Linked DNA regions of Homo sapiens: regions 1, 2, 3 and 4 are each linked to region 5. Evidence: fine-mapped QTL for protein levels in blood plasma. A gene starts in region 5. Each other region holds a variant in brackets. All regions are shown on one strand. Distances are between the middles of the regions.

Region 1 (5,103 bases), 570 kb after region 5:
TAAAATATAGACTAGCAAAAAAAGCACCCAATCTCACTTACTCATGTGCAACTTCTATCGACATTTCTTTTGTTTTTTTTGAGATGGAGTTTTGCTCTTGTTGACCAGGCTAGAGTGCAATGGCACAATCTCAGCTCACTGCCTCCCTGGGTTCAAGCGATTCTCCTGCCTCAGCCTCCCCAGCAGCTGGGACTACAGGCGCGCACCACCATGCCTGGCTAATTTTGGTATTTTTAGTAGAGATGGGTTTTCACTGTGTTGGCCAGGCTGGTCTTGAACCCCTGATATCAGGTGATCCACCTGCCTTGGCTCCCAAAGTGCTGGGATTACAGGAGTGAGCCATCATGCCTGGCCAACATTTCAACAGAATCTTACAATTCCTGTTTTATATGTATTTATATATATACTTTACCTCAGTATGATAGAGTGGGAAGGGATCTAGTTTAGGGTTAAGATTCTCTTCTTGGCTCTATCTCCAACTCATGGGACTTAGAGAACATGGTTTCAACTTATGGAAATAATTAAGCTTTACCTTCTTATCTTGAACAGTAATATGAGATTCAAATGAGATAATGCAAAAAAGGAAGATCTCTGGCAATTTTCAAAATGCTGCATAATTTTATTCTTTTACAGCAGTGCAGTCTTGAAGTTAAAGTATTAGTGGCAGAGCCTTTACTGACCACAGCCCAGATCTCAGGGGGCAATCTACTGAAGGTCACGTTGGAGGCTGCTTACTCTGTGCCTGAATCCTTCATTCCAACAGGTCCTGGGCAGAACTACATGGTCGGTCTGCAAGTTCCATCACTTGGAGAGGTAAAGCCCTACTGCCAGATATTTATAGAGATTCAAACATGTCTGTACTCATATGGCCATCTCTTCCTCACCTCTAAGATTTCATTCAAAGCATTGCACTGCTAATAGCTGAGATTTATTTTAGGCTTGAAAAATACAGTTTATTTCTATTTTATATACAGATCTTAATGTTTATAATTTACATATTATATATTATGCATTAAATATAATTTATATAAATATATGGTGGAAAATATGTAAGATTTAAAATGGCCAATTTTGGTGTATTTCTATACAGATTATTTTTATGTGTACATTTTGCAGATTTTGTGCAACGTGCTTTATTAAACAAAACTTTCTCTTAATTCCAGATTATTTTCTTAGGCCAAATTTCTAGGTATAGGAATGATTGGATATGGAGTTTCTTAGGCTCTTGATGGAGATTTCTAACTTGCTTGCTAAAAGGCTTCTTCTATTCAGTTAACACTTCCACTTATCTTATTTCCAGGGCCATGTATGTGGATGACCCACTAAAGTTGTGTAGCAACTGTTCAGTTTGCTGAGGACTTAGGAGGTTCCTGGGACATGGGACTTTCAGCACCACAACTGGGACAGTCCTAGGCAAATGAGATGGCTGATCACCCTTCCGGGGAACAGCCCACATAGTTATATGAGGCAGATCTGTGCATTGCCCTCTCTCCAACTTTGAGATTGTATTGAAAATTTTCTCTTTGTTTTTGCTAATTTTGATAATTAAAAGTGTCTTTTATTTTTTTTCTCCTGGAGGGCTTAGTATTTTTCTTGCTGATGTATTAAATTCTGGCTGGGGTGCAGTGGCTCACGCCTGTAATCCCAGCACTTTGGGAGGCTGAGGCAGGTAGATCAACTGAGGTTAGGAGTTCGAGACCAGCCTGGCCAACATGGTGAAACCCTGTCTCTACTAAAAATACAAAAAATTAGCTGGGTATGGTGGTGGGTGCCTGTAATCCCAGCTACTGGGGAGGCTGAGGCAGGAGAACCACTTAAACCTGGGAGGCAGAGGTTGCAGTGAGCCAAGATTGCGCCAAGATTGTACTCCAGCCTGGGCAACGAGTGAAACGCCATCTCAAAAAAAAAAAAAATTCTTCATATGTAGAGAAAAATAATATTTTCTTTCAAGTTTGTCAATTTATAGTTTATCATATTTATTTCTGGTTTATTATTTATTTTTAATTTGGGTCATTGCTTTGGTACACAAAAGTTTTTTAATAGTTAAATCTTTTTCTTTTAGGTTTCTTACATCATTTTAAACTTGAAAAGGGCTCCTTTATTCTGATGTTTTATGAAAGGTTGCCCTACCAGGTCCTAGAATTCTTTTTTGCTTTGCTTTTGGAGATGGAGATGGAGTCTCACTCTGTCGCCCAGGCTAGAGTGCAGTGGCATGATCTCAGCTCACTCCACCCTGTGCCTCCCGGGTTCAAGCAATTCTCCTGACTCAGCCTCCTGAGTAGCTGGAACTACAGGTGCCCACTACCACGCCCAGCTAATTTTTTGTATTTTAGTAGAGAGGGGGTTTCACCATGTTGGCCAGGCTGGTCTTGAACTCCTGACCTCAGGTGATCCGCATGTCTCAGCCTCCCAAAGTGCTGGGATTACAGGTGTGAGCCACCACACCCAGCCCCAGGTCCTAGTTTTATGCAGTAGTCTTAGTTCCAGCTTCCCGTCCTGCCTGAGCATGGGGCCATGATTGCTTCTCTATAATAGTGTCTGGGTCTGACATTTCCTGGGTTGGCGCAGCATCAGCTCATGAGCTTATCCCTTGGGTACTGAGTTGCTGCTGCTGCCAGTTCTGGCACTTTTAGACTTTCTTTTTCTTTCTCTTTTTTTTTTTTTTTTTGAGACGGAATCTCGCTCTGTCACCCAGGCTGGAGTGCAGTGGTGCGATCTCGGCACACTGCACCCTCTGCCTTCTGGGTTCAAGTGATTCTCCTGCCTCAGCCTCCCGAGTAGCTGGGACTACAGGCACCCGCCACCAGGCCCGGCTAATTTTTTGTATTTTTAGTAGAGATGGGGTTTCACCGTATTAGCCAGGATGGTCTCGATCTCCTGACCTTGTGATCCGCCCACCTCGGCCTCCCAAAGTGCTGGGATTACAGGCGTGAGCCACTG[C/T]GCCCGGCTTAATTTTTGTATTTTTAGTAGAGATGGGGTTTCACCATATTGGCCAGGATGGTCTCGAACTCCTGACCTTGTGATCCGCCCGCCTCGGCCTCCCACAGTGCTGGGATTACAGGTGTGAGCCACCGTGACTGGACTAGACTTTCATTTACTTCTTTTGACCTTGGCTATGTGATAAAATATAACTCTTTTTTTGTTGTTGCTATTCTACTTTATCTAGTTTGTTGTGTTTGTTGCTGATGAAGGCTCTGTTGTACTTTAGTTTGCTATAGTGTTGGAAATAGAACTTCCTTTTAATTTAAGGGCCATTTATTTATCTTTTCCAGTAAACTTCTTGTTCCTGTTCTTTATCTATCTATATATCTCTCTATCTATCTATCTATTAATAAGAGACAGGGTCTCACTCCATCACCTAGGCTGGAGTGCAGTGGCACAATCATAGATTACAGTAACCTTGAACTTCTGGACTCAAGCAATCCTCTCACCTCAGCCTCCCACGTAGCTGGGATTACAGGTGCATGCCATTGCATCTAGCTAATTTTTAATTTTTTTTTTTTGTAGAGATGGGGGTCTCACTATGTTGCCCAGGCTGGTTTCAAGCTCCTGGCTTCAAGTGATCCTCCTGGCTCTATCTCCCAAAGTGGGATTATAGGCATTAAGCCACCTTGCCTGGCTGATATCTCATTGTTTTAATGTGCACTTTACTGATTATTAATGAAACATAGCATGTTTTTGTTTAAATGTTGGATGTTCTAATTTCCCCTTCTATAAATTGCCTACTTATATATTTTACCAATTTTCTACTGCAAGTATACTTTGGATAAGTTATAAGACATGAAAATGCCTATATTTTTAGCCCCTTGCCAGATTTTAGTTCGTTTTCTAAAGGATAATTTTTAAACAGGTATAAGCACAACTCTCATATAAATATAAATAACACAGAATTTGGTCCAAGATTTTATTTAACTAATTAATGAGGGAATCAGTAAAATGTGACAATGAGTTCAAAGGAGTATATAGGCATCAGGAATGCTGAAATGAATTTGCCAATAATTCAAAATTTGTCATTAGCTTCAGGGAAATAATCAGTTACATTGCCACTGGACAAACTGTATCTGCATATTTATGAACAAGAATAATTTGCATTATTATCAAATGTCTATAAGTTACAGAGTTGTAAAATAGCACAAAGGGAATGAAGGGCACAGGCCCCTCTCTAGAATCAGATTAATCGTAGAGGGGTATGTTTGATAACACTCAGCATTCCATTGAAAAGACACTTGAATAATCTTCTTGTCCATTTCAAAGTCCTTTACAAATTTTCCTGACATATGGTATCTATTTCTGTAGAAGGACTATCCCATTTTATTTAAGAATGGAACTCTGAAGCTTGGAGGGGAAAGGGAACCTGTTCCCCGGCCCAAAAAGTGGCCAATTGCCAACATTCTGGCTCCAGGAGCTAATAACATTCCTGATGCATTCATTGTTGGTGGTCCCTATGAAGAAGAAGAAGGAGAACTCAACCATCCTGAGGTGAGAGCCTGATATACAGGTTTTTGTGATAAACTTAGTGTACTGACAGATGATAAAACATTTTGTGAATTACTGTAATTTATATACATTTGTCACCTGTCGAAATACTTACATGCCAAAATAAAACACATATCTAATTCTGATTCAAATATCTTCTGGCTTCTTAAGTCCAGAAAACAAAATAATTTATATCACATGTACTCTTTATTTTATTTTAAATTTACTGATTTATGAATAGGTAATTATCAGTTACTGTCAAAATTAAAAATGAAGATGTATGCAGTGAAAGTGTCCCTCTAGTCATGTCTCTTCCTTCTAATTCCTCCCCATCTCATTACCCTAGTAGTGATGGCAGCAGTGGCCAGTCTGGAGCAGCTCCTGCCATGATGCTGGCTGCAGTGGGGGAGTCCTGACTGGGCCTACACGCTCCATGGAGCTGGTGGGAGCTGGGAACAAGTGCCCTCCCATGTGCAGCTGCAGCTGCCCAACCACAGCTGCATACCCAGGCATCTCTGCACTCTTGGAAGCTGGGAAGCCCTCCTGCCCCCACAGGCTTGGAAGTGCCTGCTCCTGCTGCCTGGCCTCTGCCTACTCCTGGTGCCTGCTCCAATTTTGGAGCAAAGC
Region 2 (5,103 bases), 27 kb before region 5:
GGGCGACAGAGCAAGACTCTGTCTCAAAAAAAAAAAAAATGTTTATTACTTCCCTTTCAAAGCTCTAGATATAGATAGATACAGATTTTTAATGCCAAAACAAAGTTACTGAAAGTGTGGTATATCTCAAATGTGTATACTTAGCAAGTCAAAGCTGTGACCCCCACACCCAAATAAATAAATAAATGAGTAAAAGAAAGCCAGGCATGGTGGCTCACGCCTATAATCTCAGCACTTGGGGAGGCTGAGGCAGGAGGATCACTTGAGTTCGGGGGTTCGAGACCAACCTGGGCAACAAAATGAGACACCATCTCCACAAAAAATACAAAAATTAGCTGGGCATGGTGGCGCATGCCTGTAGTCTCAGCTACTTGGGAGGCTGAGGTGGGAGGATCACTTCAGCCCAGTAGGTCCAGGCTGCAGTGAGTGGTGATGACCCACTGCACTCCAGCCTGGGTGACAAAGCCAGGCCCTATCTCAAAAAAAGAAAAAATGCCCAAAGCTGTATTTTGTATTTTTTGTAGAGAGAAAGTCTCACTTTGTTGCCTAGGCTGGTCTCGAACTCCTGGGCTTAAGCGATCTTCCTGCGTCCGCCTCCCAAATTGCTGGGATTACAGGCGTGAGCCACCGCGCCTGGCCCCGTTTTATTATTTTATTATTTTTTTTATTTATTATTATTTTTAAAAATGTTGGCCGGGTGTGGTGGCACACACACACACACACACACACACACACACACGCAGAGAGAGAGAGAGAGTTGACGAAAAGAGTCAAACTGTGTAAAATATTTGAAGAGATTTATTCTGAGCCAAATATGGGTGACCATAGCTTGTGATACAGCCCTCAGGAGACCCTGAGAACATGTGCCCAAGGTGGTAGGGGCACAGCTTGGTTTTATACATTTTAGGGAGGCATGAGACATCAGTCAACACATTTAAGATGTACATTGGTTAGATCCAGAAAGGGGGGACAACTCAAAATGGGGAATGGGGTACAGAGCCTTCAAGATTATAGGTAGATTAAAAAATTTTCTAGGCCGGGTGCAGTGGCTCATGCCTGTAATCCCAGCACTTCGGTAGGCTGAGGTGGGCAGATCATCTGAGGTCAGGAGTTTGAGACCAGCCTGGCCAACATGGCAAAACCCTGTCTCTACTAAAAAATACAAAAATTAGCCGGGCGTAGTGGCAGGCACCTGTAATCCTAGCTACTCAGGAGGCTGAGGCAGGAGAATCATTTGAAGCTGGGAGGCGGAGGTTGCAGTGAGCCAAGATTGCACCACTGCATTCCAGCCTGCACTCAAGACTCCATCTCAAACAAACAAACAAAATTCTCATTGGCAATGGTTAAAAGAGTTATCACTAGAATGAAATATCTAGGTTATGATAAGAGGTTATGGAGACCAAAGTTTTATCATGCAAATGAAGCCTCCAGATAGCAGGCTTCAGGAGAGAATAGATTGTAAAGGTTATTTATCAGACTTAAGGTCTATGTTGTTGTTAATGCTGGTCAGCTTTTCCTGAATTCCAAAAGGCAGGAGGGCATTATGAGGCAGGTCCAACCCCCACTTCCCCTCATGGCCTGAAAACAGTTGTTCAGGTTAACTTTGGAGTGGCCTGGCCAAGAGGAGGGAGTCTCTTCAGATGGTGGGGGTAGCCTTAGATTTTTATTTTTGGTTTACAACAAACACACACACAGAGTCCCATACACACATATGTGTATATATACATATATAATGCAACATAACAGAGCAATTCACAAGCCATATGAAGATAATGAGTTTACAGCACACCATAGGGCTGGTAATGGTAGCAAGTTTAGGATGCATGTCTTCACCTGATCCCGCACAGTGAGGCTGAATGTAGCTCTGACAGGTGTGTGACCCCACACATTTAAGGTCTGTATCTGAGGCCCTACATAATCTGAGGCCTTAGCCAAATGCCCCCCCGCAGTCCACTGCCTACTCTCCACCCCCATCCTCATGGTCCAGGCCACCAAGAAATATTATACTCAATGAAAAGTGGAGAAGAAGCCAGGGAGTCCAAAGTTACTGGGCCTCTTCCTCCAGTTCCCAACTTGCCACCACAGTAGAGAAAGACTCTCAGCTGGCTTGGGGAACACAGTTGGACAGCGAGGAGGCAGCTTCTCTGTTCCTGGGCTGCTCTCTGTATCAGCCTCCACCCCAAAAGTCTCCACCTTGGTCCATTATCCCCTCTCCTTAGGCCCCAGAGCCTCTTC[C/T]TGTGTTTGTGTTGTTTTTGTCAGAGCAGGAAGTCTTCCTGGAAATCCACCAGAAATCCAACATCCTCCTCCTTCCCCAGGGGACCCTGGCCTTAGGCATACACCCCACCCCACCTCAGCTCTGGCTGAGGCACAAGGCCAGAATCACAGGAATCCATCTTCCCAGGAACCCTGCCTTGCCCTCAGGCTCTGCGTCAGCCCCATCCTACCTCCCCACACTGCAACACTAAGAGCAGCAACTCCCTGCAGTAGAAAACAGCAATAAGGGAGAAAAAGCTCGTCATTTCTAAAGGAAATGTGAAAAACACAGAAGTGTACACAGAAGAAAACCACCATAACCTGGATGTCCACTATGCCGCTCTTTTTGGTATCCCTTTTCCACCAGAAGCTGACAGCTGAACCATGACTCCCCAACCACATCTGCACACATGCACAGGCTCTCCAGCTTCTCCTCCTTGTTTGGCTGTCAGAATCCTCACCTCATCTAGTTGGTGTGGGAGAGGATAAGGCTAAAGTGAGAATGACCGACTGTGTTCACTCTCCTGTGTTATAGACTAACAGCTGAGGGTATCCTTGGAGTCCATGAAATACCTGTCCTGCTAGATGCTCCTGGAAGAGGGAGTTCTGAGATCATCTATGTTGGGAACACCATCTACACGGCCCCATCCTGTATCCATCAGGTTGAAGTCCAAAAAGTGCTAAAAACTAAGTTTTAAAAAATAACAGGCTGGGTGCTATGGCTCATGCCTGTAATCCCAGTACTTTGGGAGGCCGATGTGGATGGATCACTTGAGGTCAGAAGTTTGAGACCAGCCTGGCCAACATAGTGAAATGCCATGTCTACTAAAAATACAAAAATTAGCCCAGTGTGGTGGTGTGTGTCTATAATCCCAGTCACTAGGGGGGCTGAAACAGGAGAATCGCTTGAACCCAGGAGGTGAAGGTTGCAGTGAGCCGAGATCACACCACTGCACTCCAGCCTGGGCAACAGAGCAAGACTCCGTCTCAAAAAACAAAACAAGACTTAGGGGTAAAACCTGACCTAAAATGATGTTGTGGCTTTTCAGATTTTTTACTTAGCCTACTTAGTATGAAGATGCATATGTTTTGCTGCAGAAGTATGTGCTTGATTACAGGGCCTGCCAGCTCTTCTGGGTGCAATGGAATAAATAGTGGAATAAATAGCATATTCACCATTTACCTTATTAAAACCTGAAATATTCTGAAATCCAAATATATCTGGTTCCAAGGGTTTTGGGTACTGGATTGTGAGCTGACTAAGTTCATTGTATGGATGTTTAACCTGTTCAAAGCATATTAAGCCTTGTTGTAGACAAGAAACTAACCTCACATAACATTCTCCAAATTTATTTGGCTACAAACCCCTTTGTTCCACTTGCTACCTATAAATATATCACAAAATTGCCATGTGGACCCTTGGGAAACATGGAATGTTTCGAAGACTTTAACTCTCTAATAGTGAGTTTTCAGATGTAGAAAAAGGGTAGATCTTCCAGAGGGCTCTTAGATCCCAGGCCCTAAGACTGGGCAAGGTGAGAAGCTGGTATAGGGATGACTGAGGCAAGCCTTTGATGGTTTACATGGGCCCGGGACAGGGCCATGACCTGCTGGAAAACCTAATTAAGACAGACACATATGTCAAACCAGAGAATCAAATCAGAAAGCCAAACAAAAATCAGGAGGAAAACAGTTAAAAGTTGAGCTAAAGATCAGAAACTAGAAGATTTTCAGGACTTAAAGCGCTCAGGGCTCTACGTTCCCAACAACAATGAATCTCTGAGACTAAGCCAACTTTCGCCTCACCCTGTGAGCTTTTATAAGCTTCCTGGAAAGATCTGCACCCATTCTGTAGTTTGCAGGTAGAAAGACAAGTGAGAGCTCCTGGTTAGCCTGTTAAATCCCTGAAGAGGCAGCTGGGACCCACCTAATGTCCTCTCTTGATGCAGGAGAAGGTATTATATTCAGGTACAATATTGAGGGACTTGTGAGAAGAGCAGATTCAGGCAACAAGCATTTGAATCCATTCTTTGGGTCTCCAGTTTCTCTGCTGCTGATGTTACAATTCTTTGAAATCATGCATTGACCAAACGTGTTGGACTTGGGTCCCATGTCTCAGCATGATCAGAGCAGGGTGCCCTGGTCTGGCAGAATATGCTGGTGAGGAGTTGGACATCTTGGCTGGTACCCCTTAACAGTCCCGGACCTGAGAGGTGGCAGGAAACCCCTCAGAATTAGTTCTGGGTAACTCTAGGGAAATTCATTAGCAGTTTCCTCTGGGCTCTTAAGGCTGGTGCTTGGAAGCAGCAGGAACGTCAGGAAAGGATGTGCTGTGTCCATCCCAGGCTTTACTGGAGCTGACTCCTGTCTCTTGCTGCTATAAGTACAGTATTTACAAGGCCTTTAAAAAATGTCTCTTCCTGCCCGGGCATGGCAGCTCACACCTGTAATCCCAGCACTCTTTTTGGGAGGCCAAGGTGGGTAGATCACTTGAGCCTAGGAGTTTGAGACCAGCCTGGGCAACATAGTGAGACCCTGTTGTCTCTATTAAAAATATAAAAATTAGCCAGGCATGGTGGCACACACCTGTCAGCTACTCAAGAGGCTGACATGGGATGATTGCTCCAGCCCAGGAGTTCAAGGCTGCAGTGAGCTATGATTGCAGCACTGCACTCCAGCCTGGGCAACAAGCAGGCAAGACCCCATCTCAAAAAAAAAAAGAAAGAAAAAAGAAAAAACTCCCTTCCAAAATTCTCACGCTCACCCCTTGACTACCTCTCTGTGCCTGCCCTCTACAACTTATTCTCTAGGATTTCTCAGTTGTGACGTTGATATTTTGAGCATCCTACA
Region 3 (5,103 bases), 11 kb before region 5:
ACTCATTGCCCCCCAGAGTTCTCCACCACAATGGACTATTCCTCATTTCCTTAGAACACCTCACCTTTTCATGCCTCCATGAACTTCCCTACGCCTACAATGCCTTTCTTCTAGTTTGGCAAATTTCTGTGTGTATTTGAATGTCCAGGTAAAATATCACCTCTTCTGTAAAGTCGTCATTGACTTCACCAGGCAGAATCAATTGCTTCTTCATTATTTTTCCATGCATTTTATGCAGACTTAGTATAGCACTTTGCAAAGTGGTGAGCTCCTTGAGGACTAGGACTGCCTCATTTGTATCTAAAATAATGTCCTGTGTATGGGTACTTTAAAAAAATGACAAAGGGCCGGGCGCAGTGGCTCATGCCTGTAATCCCAGCACTTTGGGAGGCCGAAGCAGGTGGATCATGAGGTCAGGAATTTAAGATCGGCCTGGCCAAGACGGTGAAACCTCGTCTCTACTAAAAATAGAAAAAAATTAGTGGGGCATGGTGGCAGGCACCTGTAATCCCAGCTACTCGGGAGGCTGAGGCAGAGAATTGCTTGAACCTGGGAGGCAGAGATTGCAGTAAGCCGAGATTGCGCCACTGCACTCCAGCCTGGGCGACAGAGCGAGATTCCATCTCAAAAAAAAAAAGAAAGAAAGAAAGAAATGACAAAGATTGTTGAATGAATCTCAATGTGACTGAAACCTCAAAAAGAGACCTAGAACATCCTTTTTTTTTTTTTTTTTTTTTTGAGATGGGGCCTCTTTATGTTGCCCAGGCTGTTCTGGAACTCCTGAACTCAAGGGATCCTCCCACTTTGGTATCCCAAAGTGCTGGAATTTACAGATGTGAGCCACTGCACCTCGCCTAGACCATCTTTTCCCTCAATTTGTTATTAAAACTCAGCAACCTCACTGACACATGCTATGCCATGGATAAAACTTGAAAACATCATGTTAAGAGTGAAAGAGGCCAGTCACAAAGAACCACATATTATAGGATTCTATTGATATGAAATGCCCAGAATTGGCAAACCCACAGAGAGGACAGAAAGTAGTAAATTAGTGATTGCCTAGGGCTGAGGGGGTTGGGGAGAAAAACGGAGTGATTGTGAGTGGGTACAGGATTTCTTTGTGAGGTGATGAAGTGTTCTAAAATTGATTGTGATGTCTCACAATTCTGTGAATCTACTAAAAACCATTGCATTGTACACTTCAAATGGTGCCAGACGTGGTGGTATGAGCCTGTAATTCCAGCCACTCAGGAGGCTGAGGTGGGAGGATCACTCTGGCCTAGGAGTTTGAGATCAGCCTGGGTGACAGAGCAAGACCCTGTCTCTAGAAAAGAGAAAGAATAAATGGGTAAGTTGTATGATATATGAATTATATCTCAATAAAACTGATTTTTTTTCTTTAGAGACAGGGTCTTGCTCTGTCACCCAGGCTGGAGTGCAGTAGTGCAATCATAGCTCACTGCAGCCTCGAGCTCCTGGGCTCAAGCAATCCTCCCGTCTAGGCCTCCCACAGTATTAGGATTACAGGTGTGAGCCATTGCACCTAGCCCAGAATTGATTTTTAAAAAACACCTCAGCAACTCCTCTTACTTCATCTAATTCAAAGGGAGGGCTTAAATGTTTCCTTCTTGGAAGGAAGGTGGACCCAATGGGAGTGAGTATGGAGGGGTATAGGCAGGGGTGCTGCTGTGGTCAGCTTGGGAAAGATAGGGCATACGTGGAAAGCAGGCTGAGTGCTGTTAATATAATGGGCTGAGAATACTTCAGAAAGAGGGGTTCTGGTGAAAACGGAAACCACTTCAATGAAACCAGATTGCAGCAGAAAGGCTGAGGTTACTGTGAGAACAGTGAAGTTTTACTTTGAAACCAATGGCTGAGTGTGGTCTCCTCATCTGGCCTGGGAATCTTCTAGGAGGAAAGAATTGTTATCTAGGAGAGGATTAAAATTCTGATAGATGAGGCTGGGCGCAGTGGCTCACGCCTGTAATCCCAGCACTTTGGGAGGCCGAGGTGGGTGAACCACGAGGTCAGGAGTTTGAGACCAGCCTGGCCAACATGGTGAAACCCCCGTCTCTACTAAAAATACAAAAATTAGC[C/T]GGGTGTGGTGGTGCACGCCTGTAATCCCAGCTACTCAGGAGGCTGAGGCAGGATAATAGCTTGAACCTGGGAAGCAGAGGTTGCAGTGAGCCGAGATGGGCCACTGCACTCCAACCTGGGCGACAGAGCAAGACTGTGTATGGAAAAAAAAAAAAAAATTCTGGGCTGGGCGGGTGGCTTACAACTGTAATCCCAGCACTTTGGGAGCCCAAAGCGGGTGGATCACAAGGTCAAGAGACCGAGACCATCCTGGCCAACATGGTGAAACCCCGTCTCTACTAAAAATACAAAAATTAGCCGGGCGTGGTGGCATGTGCCTGTAATCTCAGCTACTCAGGAGGCTGAGGCAGGAGGATCACTTGAACCCGGGAGGCGGAGGTTGCAGTGAGCCAGGATTACGCCACTGCACTCCAGCCTGGCAACAGAGTGAGACTCCGTCTCAAAAAAAAAAAAAAAATTCTGATAGCTGTTGCCTAGAAACCCAGCAACCATAAAGTAGAAAGCTTGAAAGGGGGGCTGCTCTCCTTTTGCCCTAGTTGGACTCTCCTGAGAGGTGATAAATCCTAGTACCGCGCATGAGGACTCTGGAGATGGCTGCCTGGGTTCGAACCCTGACTCTTTGCATTTGGAGCTGCATTGCCTCGTGCAAGTCACTCAATCTGTCTGTGCCTCCATTTTCTCTACTGTTAAATGGGGCTAGTGATACTACCTTCCTCATAGGATTCTTGGGAGGATTAACTCAGACAACACATGAATAATTTAGCACAGTGTTGGTCTGGCATGGTGGCTCATGCTTGTAATCCCAGCACTTTGGGAGGCTGAGGCGGGTTGATCACTTGAGGTTAGGAGTTTGAGACCAACCCGGCCAACATGGTGAAACCCCATCTCTATTGAAAGTACAAAAAATTAGCCAGGCGTAGTGGCGGGCGCCTGTAATCTCAGCTACTCGGGAGGCTGAGGCAGGAGAACTGCTTGAACCCGGGAGGCAAAGGTTGCACAGTGAGCTGAGATTGAGCCACTACACTCCAAACTGGGGGACAGAGCAAGACTCCATCTCAAACAAAAAAAAAAAAGGCCGGGCACGGTGGCTCACGCCTGTAATCCCAACATTCTGGGAGGCCGAGGCAGGCGGATCACGAAGTCAGGAAATCAAGACCATCCTGGCCAACATGGTGAAACCCCATCTCTACTAAAAACAATACAAAAAGTAGCCGGGCGTGGTGGTGGGCGCCTGTAATCCCAGCTACTCGGGAGGCTGAGGCAGGAGAATCGCTTGAACCTGGGAGGCGGAGGTTGCAGTGAGCCGAGATCACACCACTGCACTCCAGCCTGGGCGACAGAGCGATACTCCATCTCAAAAAAAAAAAAAACAAAAGCAAAAACAGAAAAAGCACAGTGCTTGATCGTGGAGGCACTAATAGGAGGCAGTCTCTGGAGTGAGAATCTGGAACTGTGAAACTGGTTGCTGGAGAAGCGGCTGATGCCTGCTAGCCTGGGGTGAGATCTAATATTAGGCAAAGAGACAGCAGCTGGCTGGGGGTCAGGGTGTTGGCTGGGAAATGGCCTGAAAATTGTTAACAGCCTCCTGGCTTAACCCTGCCAGTAGGGCTCATACTTCCTGTTTTCAGTGTCTCTGAGCCCTGATGCTGGAGCTGCTCAAGTTTGAACAAGATCTTTCTTGGCCCCTGAGGGGAAGGCAGAAACTGAACAGCCACTCGGCTTGGGCAGCTTCCTAGCAGGTTTCCACTCCCGCAAAATAGTGCAGTTCTGAGGTGGGAGAGGGCAGAGGGTTCCCATCTGATCTGATGCTACAATAATTTACTTAGCTTTGTAATAATAACCACCGTTTTTATGCTTTTATTAGGTGCCAGTATTATGCTAAAGGACTTATGAACTCATGAATCCTTTCTGTTGTTGTTGTTGTTGTTGAGACGAAGTCTTGCTCTCTGTTGCCCAGGATAGAGTGCAGTGGTGTGATCTCGGCTCACTGCAAATTCCACCTCCCAGTTTCAAGCAATTCTCGTGCCTCAGACTCCCGAGTAGCTGGGATTACAGGCATATGCCACCACGCCTGGCTAATTTTTGTATTTTTTTTTTTTTAGTGGAGACAGGGTTTCACCTTGTTGGTCAGGCTGGTCTCGAATTCCTGGCCTCAGGTGATCCGCCCACCTTGGCCTCCCGAAGCACTGGGATTACAGGCTGAGCCACTGTGTCTGGCCTTCATGAATCCTTATAACAACCCAGGGAGGTAGATTGTATCATCTCTTTTGTACAGATGAGGAAACTGAGGTGCAGAGAGGCTAATAACCTTTCTCAAGTCACACAGCTGGTGTTAGATTCTAGTTCAGGCCACCGGACTCGAAAATCCATGCTCTAAACCACTGCATCAACCTGTGTAAAACAGCACACTAGATGATGGGGATCAAAAGCCGAATACTAATCCCAGTACTTTGGGAGACCAAGGGAGGCAGATCACCTGAGGTCGGGAGTTCGAGACCAGCCTGGCCAACAGGGTGAAACCCCATCTCTACCAAAAACACAAAAATGAGCCGGGTAGTGGTAGTGCATGCTTGTAATCCCAGCTACTTGGGAGGCTGAGGCAGGAGAATCGCTTGAACCTGGGAGGCAGAAGCTGCAGTGAGCTAAGATTGCGCCACTGCACTCCAGCCTGGGTGACAGAGTGAGACCCTGCCTCAAAAAAAAGAAAAAGCCAAATACTTGGAGTTCTTGCCCTCTAGGGAAGCACGGTCCAGAAAGCCTTTAACCAGGAAATCCAGGAGACCTTGTGCCACCAAACCCCACTCAGAAAACTGGCTGTTCATGCAGAGAACTCATGCTGACCATATCTTGAATTTTTCTGGGCACTTCATATATTCTGACCAATTGTCCCCAAAGGCTGTCAATCAGTGGTGCATGTTAGTAACACCGAGGGAGCTTTTCTAAAACCACGAGACCTGGAGCCAGCCCTGACCTGAATCACAATCTCTACAGGTGGAGTGTAGGTGT
Region 4 (5,103 bases), 1.3 Mb after region 5:
CACAGAATGCTCCTCAATATGGGTTTGGTTGATATTTCCTCATGATCAGATTCAAGTGATATTGTGTTCTTCTCAGAGTACTATATCATAGGGATCAAAGTGTTGCATAGTTTCTGTTATATAGTTACCATTTCCTTTTGTAAAAAATATAAAATCTGTGGGGAGATGCTTTGAAACATAAAAATACCCTGCTTCTCATAAAATTCCCTGCCCAACCCCTGCCGGATTTAACTGATAATGTTTGCCCAAACCAATCTTTACCATGATAGTTGCAAAATGGTGGTTTTCCCAACTCCACCACTCTCTTTGGATTTATCAGCAAGTAGTCTACTTTAAGGAAAGCCACTGTCTGATTTCCCCATTTCTCTTTCTCTCCTTAATATAGATTGTTGGATTCTTATTTTATTCAGTGGCTGTAACTTACTACTGTTCTTTTTTTTTTTTTCTTTTGAGACAGTCTGGCTCTGTTGCCAGCCTGGAGTGTAGTGGTGTGATCTTGGCTCACTGCAACCTCTGCCTCCTGGGTTCAAACGATTCTCCTGCCTCAGCCTCCCGAGTAGCTGGGACTACAGGCACGCACCACCACACTCAGCTAACTTTTGTATTTTTTTAGTACAGACACGGTTTCACCATGTTGGCCAGGATGGTCTCAATCTCTTAACCTTGTGATATGCCCGCCTCGGCCTCCCAAAGTGCTGGGATTACAGGCGTGAGCCATCCCGCCCAGCCACTTATTACTGTTCTTATGCTGGTACTCCAATTATCCCAGATTTGGCCAGTGATGGGCCTTCAAGCTGGCTCCCTTTGACATGTCCTCATTTTATTTTCTGATTGCTTCCTTACTTTTGGACACAACAAGATGTTCCAGGTCATCTTGTACATTCCTGCTGTAGACTTGAAACCAGCCCTGTTTTCAAGAAGACTTAGTTCCTTTTTGTGGAGAAAGGTAGTTCAGAAATCAAGATCTGGGCAGAGATTCTTTAATTTTGAAGTTAGTTTCAATCATAAAATCAAGGAGAATATGTCAATTTTTATAAATCATCATATTTATGCCATCCTCCCACCTCCTAGTGGTAAAAAGCCAGGAAACATTTAAGCTTTTTTAAAATTTTTTTCATATTTATTTGAACATAATTAATTCTGGCTATAAGTATTAGAGAAGAATACTCACTGCAAGAACAACTATGGGTCATAAGTCTCTAGATAGCTACTCAAGTACAATATAACTTCAAAAAGGTTGGGTGTGGTGGCTCACACCTGTAATCTCAGCACTTTGGGAGGCCAAGGTGGGTGGATCTCTTGAGCCAAGGAGTTCGAGACCAGCCCGGGCAACATAGTGATATGTTGTCTCTACAAAAATTACAAAAAATTAGCCAGGGCTGGTGGTTTGCACCTGTAGTCTCAGCTACTCAGGAGGCTGAGGCGGGAGGATCACTTGAGCCTGGGAGGTTGAGGCTGCAGTGAGCTGAGATGGTGCACTGCATTCCAGCCTGGGCGACAGAGTAAGACTCTAAGACTCTCTGTCTCTTTGTTTCTCTGTCTCTGTCTCTGATATATATATTCAAAAGGAGTTTGTGATGGACGACTGCATAGGTTTTGAGATACCATAATCTATGGAACCCTGAAGATAAGTGTAATAAAACAAAGACCATCTCATTGAATTCATTTTAAAGAAACTGAATGAAAGCTTTAGAAAATAAACTTTTTGTAGTCTGATACTTGTTGCAAAAGATGTTTTTGTTTTTTACAGTGGTGTGATATGTTGGAGACTGCTGTGGTAACACATATTATTTTAATGTGATAAGAATAGATGAACTATAAAATGTATGACATAAGGACACCAATTTCTATTTTTAGTGAATGACATTAAATACTGTCCCTTGATAACACAGATCTTTCAACACAACACACTTTTGAAATACTGAAGATGAAATAAATAAACATTATATTTTGCATATGATAGTATGATAGTCCTGGGGGCAAAGATCAAATCTATTTGTCAAGTATACAGGACTTAGTATTCATTCCCAATCCTATCATTGCAGGGGAATCACCTGGGACTTTTAAAATCCAGATTCCAGAGCATCACCCTGGTTCACTGAAGCAGTGTGTCTCATGATCCAAGAATCTGTATTTTAAAAATCTCCTCAGATAATTCCCAGGCATTTGATCACCAGACTGGTTTGGGAACTACTGAACTTGTTAAAAAATACATTTTTACGGTGGTGCAAGTCTCATTATAGATACAAGTTGCCCAAGGGCAGGAATCGAGCTTATAAATTTTTACAAGCCCAGCACTAGTTGTGAGCATTACATATATTAATATGTAGGTATTCAATATATGTCTGTGAAAGAATTTTGACTTCAAATTTTATTGGTCACCAGAGGAGTCTTATTATTAGTTTGTACAGGAGATATAAACCTTGATTAGTGATATCATACATTTATATGACTCGGAACACATTGCATAGCATCCTGAAAAACAATACTGAATTGATGGACAGATTTCTAATGTAGAATATAGCTGTGTTTGGTTATGACCTTGAATTCTGCTAACTTACTCTATACTCTTGGAAATGAAGAAGGAGCTAGATGCGGTGGCTCACGCCTGTAATCCAAGCATT[A/G]TGGGAGGCTGAGGCGGGTGGATCACGAGGTCAGGAGTTCGAGACCAGCCTGGCCAAAATGGTGAAACCCCATCTCTACTAAAAACACAAAAATTAGCCAGGCATGGTGGCGCATGCCTGTAATCCCAGCTACTCAGGAGGCTGAGGCAGGAGAATCACTTGAACCTGGGAGGTGGAGGTTGCAGTGAGCCAAGATTGTGCCACTGCACTCTAGCCTGGGTGACACAGCAAGACTCCGTCTCAAAAAAAGAAAAAAAAAAAGAAATGAAGAAAGAATACTCACATCTCATATTTATTTGTATAAGATTGGCCTAGTCTGTAAATTGTCTCTGTCTTGTTCTCCTTTCCATTAAATGTTCTACTTGATGCCAAAATGACTAGACAAAATATACAATAGCATTTAACATTTGTATGGTTTAAAACAGTGGTTCTCAAAGTGTGGTCAAAGACCACTGGAGGTTTCCTGAAACCCTTTCTAGTAATCTGTAAGGTCAAGACTGTTTTCTTACTAATACACTGTTATTTGCCTTATCGCTCTAATTCTTTCTTGAGTATATAGTAGAGTTTGCCAGAGGCTACATGAAGTGTAAGAGTGCAAACATTTAATGCAGAAAAGATACAAGAATCTGTCTTCTATTAAGCCAGACATTAAAGAAATTTGCAGCCGGGCACAGTGGCTCATGCCTGTAATCCCAGTACTTTGGGAGGACGATGTGGGCGGATCACGAGGTCAGGGGTTTGAGACCGGCCTGATCAACATGGTGAAACCCCGTCTCTACTAAAAATACAAAAAAATTAGCCGGGCGTGGTGGCATGCGCCTGTAATCCCAGCTACTCAGGAGGCTGAGGCAGGAGAATCACTTGAAACCGGGAAGCAGAGGTTGCAGTGAGCCGAGATCGTGCCACTGCACTCCAGCCTGGGCGACACAGTGAGACTCTGTCTCAAAAAAAAAGAAAAGAAATTTGCAATAATGTAAAACCATGCTACTCTTTTTTTTTGAAGTTGTTTTTCTTAAGAATACATTATTTATGTCAACATATAATGGATCTATTATTTTTAAATGACTAAGTACACATTAAAATAATTTCAATTTTAATTTTCTTTCTTTTCTCTTTTTTTTTTTTGAGACTGAGTCTTGCTCTGTCACTGAGGCCTAGGCTGGAGTGCAGTGGCATGATCCTGGCTCACTGCAACCTCTGTCTACCGGATTCAGGCGATTCTCCTACCTCAGCCTCCTGAGTAGCTGGGATTACAGGCGTGTGCCACCATGCCTGGCTAATTTTTGTATTTTTAGTAGAGATAGGGTTTCACCATGTTGGCCAAGATGGTCTCGAACTCATGACCTCAGGTGATCTGCCGCCTCTGCCTCCCAAAGTGCTGGGTGCCATTGTACCCGGCCTCAATTTTAAGTCCTCATATGCTAAATTAAAAAAAGTTTATAGAGACAGGTTCTTGCGCTGTTGCGCAGGCTGGAGTGCAGTGGCATGATCATAGCTCACTGTAGCCTCAAAGTCCTAGCCTCACGTGATCATCCCATCTCAGTCTCTCAAAATGCTGAGATTATAGGTATTAGCCTCTGCCTGGCCGAATATGGTAAATATCGATAGGTATAACACACATAAATAAAAGTTATTTTGAGTCCTCAATAATTTTTAAGTGTATAGGGGTCCTAAGACCAAAACGTTTGAGAAACAATGATTTATGTTTTTAAATGTTATTTAACAGTTAGTTTGACTGATTAGTTTTATATAGACAAATGTTGCCTAAAATTAGAATTGAATTTCAGCAAATCTTTCTTTCTTTTTTTGAGACGGAGTCTCGCTTTGTCGCCCAGGCTGGAGTGCAGTGGCACGATCTTGGCTTACTGCAAGCTCTGCCTCCCGGGTTCCTGCCATTCTCCTGTCTCAGCCTCCCGAGTAGCTGGGACTACAGGCGCCCGCCACCACGCCTGGCTAATTTTTTGTATTTTTAGTAGAGACAGGGTTTCACCGTGTTAGCCAGGATGGTCTCGATCTCCTGACCCGCCCGCCTCAGCCTCCCAAAGTGCTGGGATTACAGGCGTGAGCCACCGCGCCCGGCCTGAATTACATCATTTAAGAGTGGAAGCCTCAGAGGCCTTCAGGTCAGGTCTATGTCCCGCTACTGCATGTACTGCATTACCTAGGGGTGTCAGCCTGCTTCCCTATCTGCAAATGAATAAAACAGTATCCATCCTAGAGTGGTTGTAGACAAGCACTGGGTTGTATGTAAAGCGCTAGCACAGAGCCATGAACACAATCATCTATTGTACTTAGGTTAGTTGGGTCTGAGAAGAAATGGAGAAAACAGAGTTGATTCTGCTTACTTCACAATTTACCCCAGGGATGGTTTTGTTGGCTTTGTTTCCATGGTTGTTGCCTTTTCCACAGCTCTGCTACGTAAATTCTTGGGAAAAAAAAATTATTTGAAAGTTCTCTGGGACCAGCGAGGTGGCTCGCA
Region 5 (5,103 bases):
CCCAGCTGAAGAGCATCAGATCTGTGGGCATGGTACGTTTGCTGAAGGACAGTGGCAGAGTTCCAGGGCAGGCAGGGCCGGCCCATGGTGTCAGTGCTGGCCTTTCCTCGGTAAAAGTGACCATTCCCCTCATAGCAGGTTTTTGACTTATCTACAAGGGGACAGGAGGATGAGAGAATATGAGAAAGAGAAGAACATTCCAACTAACTTTTATTTTTTTTTTTTGAGATGGAGTCTTGCTCTGTCGCCCAGTTGGAGTGCAGTGGTGTGATCTCAGCTCACTGAGATCTCTGCCTCCCAGGTTCAAGCAATTCTCCTGCCTCAGCCTCCCAAGTAGCTGGGACTACAGGCATCCACTACCATGCCAGGCTGATTTTTGCATTTTTAGTAGAGGCAGGGTTACACCATGTTGTCCAGGCTGGTCTTGAACTCCTGACCTCAAATGATCCACTCACCTTGACCTCTCAAAATGCTGGGATTACAAGCGTGAGCCACCATGCCCGGCTGCCAACGGACATTTTAAAGATGTCGTTTCAGACCTGCCAGAAGACTGGACAGGGTCTCCTTCCAACCCCACCTCACATTTGTGTGGCCACTGTTTCGTGAGCGTGTGTGTGTGTTTATGCTTGTCACATAGGGATGAAGATGTCACCCACCCTACCTCCAGCTCCTAACTCCTGCCTGCTCTTGCCTCCCACCCATCCCTCCCTGTCCCCAAATTTCTCTCCCAGTTGCAGTGGAGATCCCCATACCTATTTCACAGTGCTGCCCTCCGAATTTCTTTGGGCAGTTGCACCAGTGAATGTTGGAGAAGTACTTGTTGGACACACATGTTCCTCCATTTAGACAGTCACAGTTCGCTGGAGAGAACAAAGGTGGGGTAAGCGAGGGGGAGTGGAAGTGGTAAGGGGTGGCGCAGCCCTGCAGCAGAGGGCAGGGAGGGGATGTCCCCTGAAGCCTTCCCAACTTGTCTGTGCAGCCAACTGTTGTAGGGGTGGATACTCACATGGAACTTGATGAAGTTCATTGCTGCCCTGGAAGAGATTCGGGAGGAGGCTTCATCAAAGGTCCCATGCTCCAGGGACTCCAGGGTGAGGGTAAACTGGCCCCAATCCCAAAACCCACTCTTCCCTCTCCCTCTCGCCTCACCCTGTTCGTATCTAGTTCTCAAATGGAAGACCATGGGTTTCCAGCCAGGAGAAATGGATTGACCCAAGCAAGCTTCATCTACCAGATGCCCGCAGGCTGGGGCAGTCCCGGCGGCCTCTTCCTCCCTTGCCAGCCAGTGCCAACCCCCGTGGTTCTCAAGCCTCCGCTGCCACCCTGTCCCATTTCCTGGGGAGAGTCTGGCCCTGCTGTGGATGGAATCCGGAGGACCCCAGCTCCCTGAGCAGCCCCTCCTCTCCCCTGGTGCTGATCAGAGGTCCTTGGGCAGCATCAGTCAAAGCAAGAGCGCACTCACTTTGGAGTCGCTCACGACCAGGACGCAGAGAAGCAGGCGCGCCAGCAGGGCTCTCATGGTGGCGAGGTCGGGGCGCTAGACGGCGGCTCTGCAAAGGAAGGAGAAGTCAGGGCAAGAGGCGGAGGAACGGGAAGGCAGGCCAGGCGGGCGACTGCAGCGCAGGGGAGATGCCCGCGGTGACCAGGCTCCCCAGCTGTCTCTCTCCTCTCTGGGCTCCGGACTCCGGGCAGCCTGGATCGGCACCCGCGGGGGACGCCCGGGACGGGGCGCCTTGACTCCGTGCAGCCGCCGGGGAGCCCAGGGAGCCCGGGCAGCCCAGGGCGGGGGAGGCAGACGCTCGGGAGCTGGGGCCGCCGCGCATCCGGCCCGGGGATCTCAGGACCGCGGCACTCACCGGTGGCTGCGGCAGGAGGGCGCGAGCCGGCGCTGCGGGGACAGGTGGACCCTGGCCCGGGCTCCGGGGCTGCGGTCTCCGCACTGTGCTGCGACCCGCGGCGCCTGCTCTATATCAGGGCCCGCCCCGGCGCCGCCCCTCCCTCTCCCGCCCGGCTCCCTCCCCTGTCTTGCAGCGCTCAGCGACCCGGACCCCGCGTGCTTCCGCAACGCTCACAAAGATTTGGGGGAAGCGCGATCTCCAGCGGAGGGGACCCAACAGCGTCTGGACTGAGGAATCGAGAGGCTTGTAAATTCTCCGTGCTTCCTCCCATGCACCTGGCCGGGGGCCTGCCCCAGTGCAAGGAGTCCCCGAATTGCAGAGAGGAGAGAAGGCGCACAGGAGACTCTCTACCTCGCCCAGCTCTGAAGCCTCCTGGGGTCCTCTAATCAGTTCTTCTGCAACTTCTCCCCGCTGGGCCCCAACTTGCCTAAGACTGCCTCAGACCCCCTTGCCCGCAGCTGATGGAGCTGTGAAGTCTTCATCAACGCGACAAATGTACGAGACATACTCTCCCAGAAGCACAGACAGAAAAACCCCTGCCTGTAGGGGCTCCCTCTGTGCGTCTGTTCAGTGGCAGTCCCCAGATATCACCAACACAACCAGTGGATGGAACAAAGCCGGGCTTATTGCTTTCGGCAGTAAGGGGGTTTGTTTGATGGTGCTATCAGAGGGGGAAAGGCAAGGCCAGATTACTGAAAATTTGCAGCTTGGTTTAAAGTCCGTTTTTGACAGGGCTTGATAAGGATTGGGTTAGGTGTCGTGATATGATGTTACAGGATTGTGGGAACAAAGTCCTAGGGCATAAACTGTTGGTGCTTCCTATTGAAGTGTTAACGGGTCTTTTGGGAAGTTTCCATAATGAGCAATTCATTTATTTGTGCAGGCAAGAATAAAAGTAAAGACAATGGAAACATGTAGACAGTTCTAACTGTGGAGGTTCTGGAGGGTGTGGAAGTTCTGTTCTCACCTCTGAGTAGAGGAATTGGGAGACTGGAGGACAAAATAAGAGGAAGATTTATTTTTCACTGTTTGTCCTTTTACACTCTTAACATTTTAAAAAGCACATCTCTGTATAGCCCATTCCAAAAAGATAATTATGCATTTTTTAATGCATGTGTATTTAGTGTTTTACTTCATCATAGAGCCTTGTTTATTCTATTCAGATAGAAACAATTGTTTATCAAATAAAATTGTCCTCCAGAAAAACAGACCATGTGTAAATGACTGCATCCACCCTTCCTGCCTGAGGATAAGCAGACATTTGTGTATACACACACACACACACACGCATCTCTGGGCACACTTGGAGGAACATAGCAGGGATTCTGTGATTCTGTCACCCCCATCTCTTTCCCCTAGTGTCAGGAACCAGGGCTTGGGGTCATTTTGAACCCAGTAGGACTCGCTCTCTTAGTGGGAAGGAGGAGGCTGAGTCCCAGCAATCCACTAGCGGCTTTGGGCCCTTTCCCAGCCTAGGCCTGCAGCATTTTCCTGCCTTGCAAATCTGGACCTTGGGTCTGGGTCCACCTGAGAGTGACAGAAGGAAGGCAGGGAGAGTGCCAGGAAGGTAGGAAGGAGGAAGGCTCCTTTGCTCTGCCCCAGCCGAGGGCTCAGGGTGCCAGCTGCCTGCTGGGGAAAGTACAAGTTAGCCTTTCAGCTTTTGGGAGGCAGGTGACCCACTGTCTTCTGGAGAGACTTCTGTGCTTGCTGAGCTGCCAGCCTTCCAGGGGACAGACTGAGTCAGCGATGCTATAGGCTTCAGAGCCAACCTTGCTACTTCCTCTAGAAGACTGTGGTCAGTTTTGTTTGGATTTGAGAACCCATTAATTGTAAATAAACGTGACCAGAACATAAACAGAGATGCTGCAGCCTGAGGACTTACCCCGAAACTCCCAGGTTAGTTATCAGGAAATTCCCAGGGACCGTCATGATTCATGTTGCTCCCCTAGCAGCTCTCATGACTCCAGATTACTTGGCTGGAGGCTGTCATGCTGATTGCTGAGAGCAGATGACTTCATTTCCTCCTGGACAAAGAGGTTTGGAGACCGTTATGAAGCGTGACACCCTTTCTCCCCTTCCGCCCCCTCCTCCCCCGTGCCACCTCTTCACCTAGCACTTCAACTCTTCACAGAACTTCCTTATCCATGCGCTAATCTTTAGCACTCTCTGAAATCTTTGTGCACAGTTCTTTTTTTTTTTTAAAGACAAGGTTTTGCTGGGCTTCTGGGTTCAAGGGGTCCTCCCACCTCATCCTTCCAAAGTGCTGGGATTACAGGCATGAGCCACCACGCCCAGCCATATTTTTTTTTTTTTTTTTTTGAGACGGAGTCTCGGTCTGTCACCCAGGCTGGAGTGCAGTGGCACAATCTCGGCTCACTGCAAGCTCCGCCTCCCGGGTTCACGCCATTCTCCTGCCTCAGCCTACCGACTAGCTGGGACTACAGGCGCCTGCCACCACACCCGGCTAATTTTTTGTATTTTTAGTAGAGATGGGGTTTCACCGTGTTAGCCAGGATGGTCTCGATCTCCTGACCTTGTGATCCGCCCACCTCGGCCTCCCAAAGTGCTGGGATTACAGGCGTGAGCCACCGTGCCCGGCCCCAGCCATATTTTTTATATTGTATTTCTGTCTTGTGCTTCAAGGCACATTAATGTAAACCATTTCTCTTTAAACTCATAACTGCCTTATGATATAGACTGGTATTGTTGTTCCCATTTTGCAGATATGGAAAATGAAGTGGAGAGAAGATACACAGTTGATGAGCAGCAAAGCCAGCACTAAAACCCAGCGTCTTCTGATCCTTGTTCCTATGCGCTATACCTCACTGTCTCCATAAAAGACAGAACGCTGTGAAGGGAGGGGCCAGTGAGCTAAGATGATCCAGCTCAGGGGAGCCCTCCTCCTGACTTTGGAGACCTCCTTCCAGAAAGACTGCTCGGACTATGGACTCTGAGCTCTTAAGTTGCACCCGCTGTAATACAAATTAGTTGTTTGCCTGAATTCCAAGAACTGTCTCTGTGGTCTAGGCTGTCTGAAATTTCTGTTGAGGGTAAGAGAATAAGGAACTGAATGTGTATGATTTCATTCTTTTCCTGACTCCTAGGGTGAAGCCACCAACCCCTGCCTCTGTGTCTCAAGGGTACAGAGCTCCTGAGTCAGATGTGGCAACACAGACTGCTGGAGAAGCCCTTTCCAGGAGATTCT

Direction of the effects. Alleles are on the strand shown, and positions count from the first base shown. The strength of an association depends on the size of the effect and on how common the allele is.
For the plasma level of the protein whose gene starts at base 1,943 in region 5, C is the high allele of the variant in region 1 and T is the other (moderate association).
For the plasma level of the protein whose gene starts at base 1,943 in region 5, C is the high allele of the variant in region 2 and T is the other (weak association).
In carriers of allele T in region 3, the plasma level of the protein whose gene starts at base 1,943 in region 5 tends to be higher than with C alone (weak association).
As copies of A replace G in region 4, the plasma level of the protein whose gene starts at base 1,943 in region 5 goes up (weak association).

What was found. PIP is the chance, under the fine-mapping model, that this variant and not a neighbour inherited with it causes the effect. The UK Biobank Pharma Proteomics Project read protein levels with antibody pairs (Olink). The fine-mapping took linkage between variants from a reference panel, not from the people measured, so its PIPs are less certain.
Region 1: its variant is fine-mapped to the plasma level of the PLAU protein (UK Biobank, PIP above 0.99).
Region 2: its variant is fine-mapped to the plasma level of the PLAU protein (UK Biobank, PIP 0.94).
Region 3: its variant is fine-mapped to the plasma level of the PLAU protein (UK Biobank, PIP above 0.99).
Region 4: its variant is fine-mapped to the plasma level of the PLAU protein (UK Biobank, PIP above 0.99).

What each region holds. Positions count from the first base shown.
Region 1 is chr10:73,340,775-73,345,877 of GRCh38, reverse strand. CFAP70 (cilia and flagella associated protein 70) reads left to right here. Exons shown (of 28, transcript NM_001367801.1): 6 at 634-813; 7 at 4,297-4,479. Among named protein-coding and RNA genes, the nearest start is that of CFAP70, 16 kb to the left of the region's middle. The variant C/T (reference allele first, on the strand shown) is at 2,941.
Region 2 is chr10:73,935,067-73,940,169 of GRCh38, reverse strand. No RefSeq gene overlaps it. Among named protein-coding and RNA genes, the nearest start is that of C10orf55, 15 kb to the right of the region's middle. The variant C/T (reference allele first, on the strand shown) is at 2,236.
Region 3 is chr10:73,918,878-73,923,980 of GRCh38, reverse strand. It overlaps C10orf55 (chromosome 10 putative open reading frame 55), which reads left to right and starts at 1,204. Exons shown (of 5, transcript NR_160938.1): 1 at 1,204-1,348. RefSeq lists enhancers at 2,514-3,160, 3,161-3,809. The variant C/T (reference allele first, on the strand shown) is at 2,097.
Region 4 is chr10:72,627,392-72,632,494 of GRCh38, reverse strand. No RefSeq gene overlaps it. Among named protein-coding and RNA genes, the nearest start is that of MICU1, 3.9 kb to the right of the region's middle. The variant A/G (reference allele first, on the strand shown) is at 2,625.
Region 5 is chr10:73,907,972-73,913,074 of GRCh38, reverse strand. PLAU (plasminogen activator, urokinase) reads right to left here and starts at 1,943. Exons shown (of 11, transcript NM_002658.6): 1 at 1,857-1,943; 2 at 1,463-1,550; 3 at 1,007-1,034; 4 at 753-860; 5 at 1-151. The coding sequence starts at 1,519. C10orf55 (chromosome 10 putative open reading frame 55) reads left to right here. Exons shown (of 5, transcript NR_160938.1): 3 at 1-32; 4 at 791-875; 5 at 980-3,106. RefSeq lists enhancers at 1-44, 3,663-3,712, 2,962-3,912, 3,268-4,467 and a silencer at 1,397-1,996.